Regions from separate parts of the Homo sapiens genome. Here region 2 is linked to region 1. Evidence: fine-mapped expression QTL. Tissue or cell type: fibroblasts. Region 1 holds a variant in brackets; the other region holds the start of a gene. All regions are shown on one strand. Distances are from middle to middle.

Region 1 (2,762 bases):
GCCCTTACAAAAGATTGATCTACATGCTTCTTCTCTAATTCATAGTCAGTCCTCCCTAAGTCCCTGAACATAGAGCCAAACCATCCGCCACTACCCGTGAATCAGCTTAGATCCATAACTTCTGGCCTTTCTCCTTCCAGGTAAAATGGACAGCTAAGTGCACTGCTCAAAGTTCTGACCATTAAGAAGATATTTCTTCCTAACTGCCTTTCAGGATCACCCTTGGGGAATTCTATAATGCCGTGGTCATCCACTTTTAGGAGGTACCAGCATATCATCAGAACCATCTGTAAATCAGACCTGAATTTTTTTCCTAGTCAATTTGTCATAGGAAGTTCCCCACGGAGCCTAGGTGGGGATTAAAGGAGAGGTGGCAATGCATCAAGATTAGATGCCACTGAAGATGTTAAAATATAGAAAGGAATGCGTTTCAGTGAGTAATAGCTAACATTTTTTAAACTTATATGGCAGGAACTATTCCTTATGATGATATGTAATAATTATTCTAATCTTACCAATAACCCTGGGAGGTAGGGTTTTTCTTAACATTCCTATTCTGCAAAGAGGAAAACCAAGTTAAGTCAGTCATCTAAGGTCACCCAAGTAGCAAATGTGGTACTGTGAAGGTGGGCAGTCAGACTCCTGAACCTATGCTCTTAACTCCAGACCTTGAGGCCTAGCAATCTTGGGTAGATGGAGGAGAAAGCAGAAAGAGAGATGGCAGCAAATCTCTTGGTTGCTACTAAGGTCCTTTGGCGCCATCTGCTGTTTAGTGCCAGAGTTGGCAATTCCAAATAGTTTGGACTCCTATGATTGATGCTTTTTTCTTTCTCTTACCTGGAACACATATGCCTATCATGTTGTCTTCTTCCACTGTTAGGTCAGCTATTCAAACAAAAACATTGAGATTATAGATCTCATTTTAACTTCCTAAGTGAGCCCAAATACGGGCCAGAAGAGTGTTGGTGTCCATTTCTGTTTGAATGTTGAAGGCTGTCTGACTTTGTGCCTGCTTCTAGTATGGTCCAAACAATTGAAGATATTTTGGCTTTGAGAACACCATAAAGAAGAATGAGATCCTGTCATTTGCAACAACATGGTTGGAACTGGAGGTCATTATGTTAAGTGAAATTAACCAGGCAAAGAAAGATAAACGTCACATGTTCTCACTTATTTGTGGGAAGTAAAAATTAAAACAACTGAACTCACGGAGATAGAGTAGAAGGATGGTTACCAGAGGCTAGGAAGGGTAGTGGGGTGGGTGGGGGGGAGTGAGGATGGTTAATGGGTACAAAAGAATAATTATAAAGAATGAATAAGACCTAGTATTCTCTAACACAACATGGTGACTATAGTCAAAAATAATTAATTATACATTATAAATAACTAAAAGAATATCACTGGAGTGTCTGTAACACAAAGGATAAATGCTTGGGTAATGGATACCCTATTTACCCTGTGTTTATTACATATTGCATTCCTGTATCAAAATATCTCATGTAGCCCATAAATATATATACCTACTATGTACCTACAAAAATTAAAAAATTTTTTTCAAAAAAACACCAAAAAGTAAGAGAACTGCAAATATATAATAGTGGTAGTCATGGTAGGTTTTGCTGCCTAGTAGCGGCTGCCAGATATTGCTAATGGAGTCAGCACAATAATCTTTTTAAACTGATGAAGCCTTTGAAAATTGTGTCGTTAGA[AAGAT/T]TTTTTAAACCAAGTTAAGACAAGAAGTTTCCTTCTTTACGACGTGTTAGATTAAGCCATTCTGCAGGGATTGGGGGATAAGGGTTCCCAGATTGTTAGAAAACTTCAACTAGAGTAGAGTTTAGAGGAGAACAAAAGATATGACCCTGAGTGGCAGTTCTATCTCAAGACAAGGTCCCCATTGCCTTAGCAGATTAAATACGCAGTTTGCTAGAAGACAAGCTGTGTGAGTGTCTTAGCCTAAGGTTGTGAGTGGGTTGTTTTACCCTGATTCAACTATCTCTTTCCTTTTCTTTGAAACACAAGGCCGCCATTTAATATGTGTCAAAACTTTAATAATTTTCATCTATTGTTTGAACAAATGAGGATTTGTTTTCCTACATGAATTGTCCAAGATGGTAGGTAGAGAATCCAATATGAGTTCAGGATCCCAAGGAAACTCCAGCCCGTTCATTCAGAAGCAGTGTCTGCAGAGGCTGTATATTTCTAAAGAAAAACAAATGGGTAAATTGAATAAAACCCAGTCGTACAGTTTCCACTTGAGGAAACTTTGACCTAGAATAGTTTGCCCGTCTCTAGAATATTCTTATATTTAAAGACCAGAAAGTGTCTCAATTGCAATGAATTCCTACTTTAGTTGATATAAGAAAGACCATTAAGCATCTATATGAATCCTGGAAGGACTCTTAAAGGCTACTGGTGATAGGTCACTATCATAATAATCGTCAATAAATCATACCTCCCTGTATCCACATCTCTTTGCAGTGTGTCATTTCTTCTCTCTCCATCTCCCCATCAAGAGATGGAGTCTATTTCTTCACACCCTTGATTCAGGGTTGAACTTATAAGTAAAATAACGTCTAACTGATATTAGTTAGACTAACTAACTCCCCTCCCTGAAGTTGCCATCCCACTCTGCATGGAACTGAAACTGCACGTCTCTTGCTGACCACCACAAAGGGACAACAGCCAGGGACTGACTGTGAAGGGACTTAGGGTAAAGGCACAGTGCAGCCCGTACAACTCAGGGAGGGGAGGAATGTACAGGT
Region 2 (2,762 bases), 30 kb after region 1:
ACAGAGATGTACAATGACGCAGTTCCTCTAAAATCAGGGGTTGATGAAGCCCATAGGCATCTGAGCCTCGGCTTCTTCATCTATAAAATGGTTGCATTTATTTAAAGGTGCACAGGGTTTTCTAGTGTTTATAAACGCTCAGTAAGTGGTAACTACTATGATTTGCAACACAATAGAGAAAGCAGTTATACCAAGATGTGCAAACAGCCCCTCCACCTCAGACCACCACCACCTGGGCTTTCCACCTCAAGAACACTCACTGCCTCAGAGGCTGCACCTGGGCTTTCCACCTCAAGAACACTCACTGCCTCAGAGGCTGCACCTGGGCTTTCCACCTCAAGAACACTCACTGCCTCAGAGGCCGGGGCTCCGGGGGGCCAGGGGCCAGGCCTCAATCCCTCCTGCCGAAGGGCCTTGTCCTGGGTGAAGTGCCCGGCGAGCTTCATGAGCGGGTTGGCACCCCCGCATTCGGCCTCCACCAGCTCCCGCATTGCCATGGTGACCGCCAGCTCTCTGATGGACACAGGAGGTTTGGAACTGAGGTACCCAAGCCAGACCCTTCTCACATCCACAACTCTGCCCGTATCTGAGGAAGGCACACAGGCGTCTGCCCCACACTGGCCGCCCTCCACCCCAGTGCTTTTGCTGCGACCCCCACCTCTGCCAGGAGTTCGAGGGAGGTCGGTACTCTCTCCTGCCGCCCCCCTCAAAGGCCACCGCTTCCAGCCTGCGCCTCTGCAGAGGCCTCCGCGACTACGGTCCCATGGGCTGGGGGCCAGCAGCTGCCTCCACAAAGGGGCCTGGACCCCGGGGGACCACGGGGACGCTTCAACAACCAGGCTGGACGGCGACACTGCCCGAAGAAGGGACAGTGGGAAAACAGCCCGACCATACCTAGCCCCGCGCAGCCCCAGCACGCGGTGAGCACGGCAGAGGAGCATTCCCTCCCCTTAAGTCACCGGAGCCCTTCCCCCGGCTCGGCCCGGTCCCTCCCGCGCTCCCCACCGCCCATCTCCCCGGCCCTGCTGCCGCTCCAGCCCCGCCCCTGGGACCCGCGAGGCCACCGCAAGGGTGGGGAGGGCCCAGGGACGCGGCCCCGGGCCCCCTCGGGGTCAGGCGCTCACCGCGGAGCGCCGCGCCGCACGACCCGCCGGGGCACCAGGTGCTGGCTTGGGGGAGGGGAGAAGAGGGGGCGGGGAGCCAGGGGGCGGGGCTCAGGCTTAAAGGGGCCGTGACCGCCCCGCAGCGGCCCAGGCCCAGCGGAAGCTGTCTGAAAAGGCGGGGCCTTAAGACTGCGACGCAGCCTGACGGGAAGAGCCGTGAGTCTTAAAGGGGAAGAGCACCTTAGAGAGCGGGTCTTGGAGAGTCGCCTTTAGGAGCGCTCGAAAAGGCCACGGGCCCTAGGATTTGTTTGACGGAAAGCTCAAAGAAGAGTGGAGCTAAGAAGGGCTTCCCAGGCTCTGGGGGAAAGCCGAAGACGCGAGATCCTAGGCTCAGTCGATCCTGCCTCTTCCCTTGGGCGCATTGTGACCTAAGGGGATTCAGTGCCCTTTCTGAGCCTCAGTTTTCCCCTCTAAAATGGGGCTGGCTAATGTTCCCAAGCCCAAGAAAGAGAAAAGCCCTAACACCAGGGGCTGGGGAGTCCAGTCCGAAGCCTTCTTCAGCCTCCTAGGCCTGCCCCGCTTCCAAATAACCCCTAGCGGGGTAGCGTCACTGTCTCCATGGAGACAGGGGCCCGCCCCCGCCTTAATCCCTCTCCACCTCTGCATAATGGGGAAAATAGCACTGCATGATGACAAATTCCGGAGACCAAAATAGGGTCCAACGCATCCTGAGACCTCGAGCTGGTAACGTACAGGGAAGGTGAACAGTGAGTCAGCCCTTCCTTCCGCTAAGTCAACATAGTGGCCTTATTCCCATCACTCCAGGCTGGGAAAGGACAAACATACAAGAAATGCTTTTAATCACGGAATAAGACTAAGCCTCAAGCCCCCTCATCTGCCAAAGAGTGTGCTCTGCTGTCAAACCTCAAAGTCATTGAGAAACAAACCCTGATAATCTCACCCAGCTTCAAGACCAAGGGAGTCCTAGTGTCATGGAGAAGAGCAAGGAGGGGCCCAGGGCTGCCGGTAAATGACCAAGGGCAATAATGCCAGACGAACAGAAGTACCATCCCAGCCCAGGGTGCATGAGCGGAGGCAGGCAGGCAGCAGGTGGCGCCATGGGCCGGGCTTGTTTCCTGGCTGTTCTGCAGATTTCAGAGGTGGAGGCCTCAGGGGGCCACAGGGAATGTCTGTGTAAACTCATCCCTGGGAAGACAGAGAAGCTGCTCTGACACCTCAGGGGAACAGAATGGCAGGGGACAGACCATAAGACTGTGCAACATTTCTCCTTTTCCTTGCCTTTTCGCCCTCTTTCAGAGGCCCCACTTCTACACCCCGTTTTCTTCCGGAGCACACAAATCCCAGCCCTTGGGCGTCCCCTGTTCTCAGGCTGCCATCGTGAGGAAAATACCTGATAAACTAAACCACACAAGGATGAAGAGATGCCCTCCAGAAGGTGCATACTTTTAAAAAGAGGACCCCCTAGAGAGAGCAATGTTTAAAGGAACCCATCTGATACAGTAGAATTTCAGAACCTCAAGGCAACCAGAGTTTCCCAGTACCACTTAAACATCACAACACACATAACCTTCTGCTCTGCTAGGAGTTTATCAACTGATTAGCCGTAACTCACTTTGTGTGCAGATCTTGGAAGAATGC

The links. PIP is the estimated chance that this variant, and not a neighbour inherited with it, causes the effect.
Region 2: PEX5 starts here. The variant in region 1 is fine-mapped to the expression of PEX5 in fibroblasts (GENCORD, PIP 0.95).

What each region holds. Positions count from the first base shown.
Region 1 is chr12:7,217,839-7,220,600 of GRCh38, reverse strand. It overlaps a transcript of PEX5 not described here. Among named protein-coding and RNA genes, the nearest start is that of PEX5, 30 kb to the right of the region's middle. The variant AAGAT/T (reference allele first, on the strand shown) is at 1,710.
Region 2 is chr12:7,188,113-7,190,874 of GRCh38, reverse strand. PEX5 (peroxisomal biogenesis factor 5) reads right to left here and starts at 1,189. Exons shown (of 16, transcript NM_001351132.2): 1 at 1,125-1,189; 2 at 351-513. The coding sequence starts at 497. RefSeq lists enhancers at 363-442, 1-615, 473-622, 616-1,332, 1,333-1,392 and 2 more and silencers at 813-1,222, 2,243-2,292.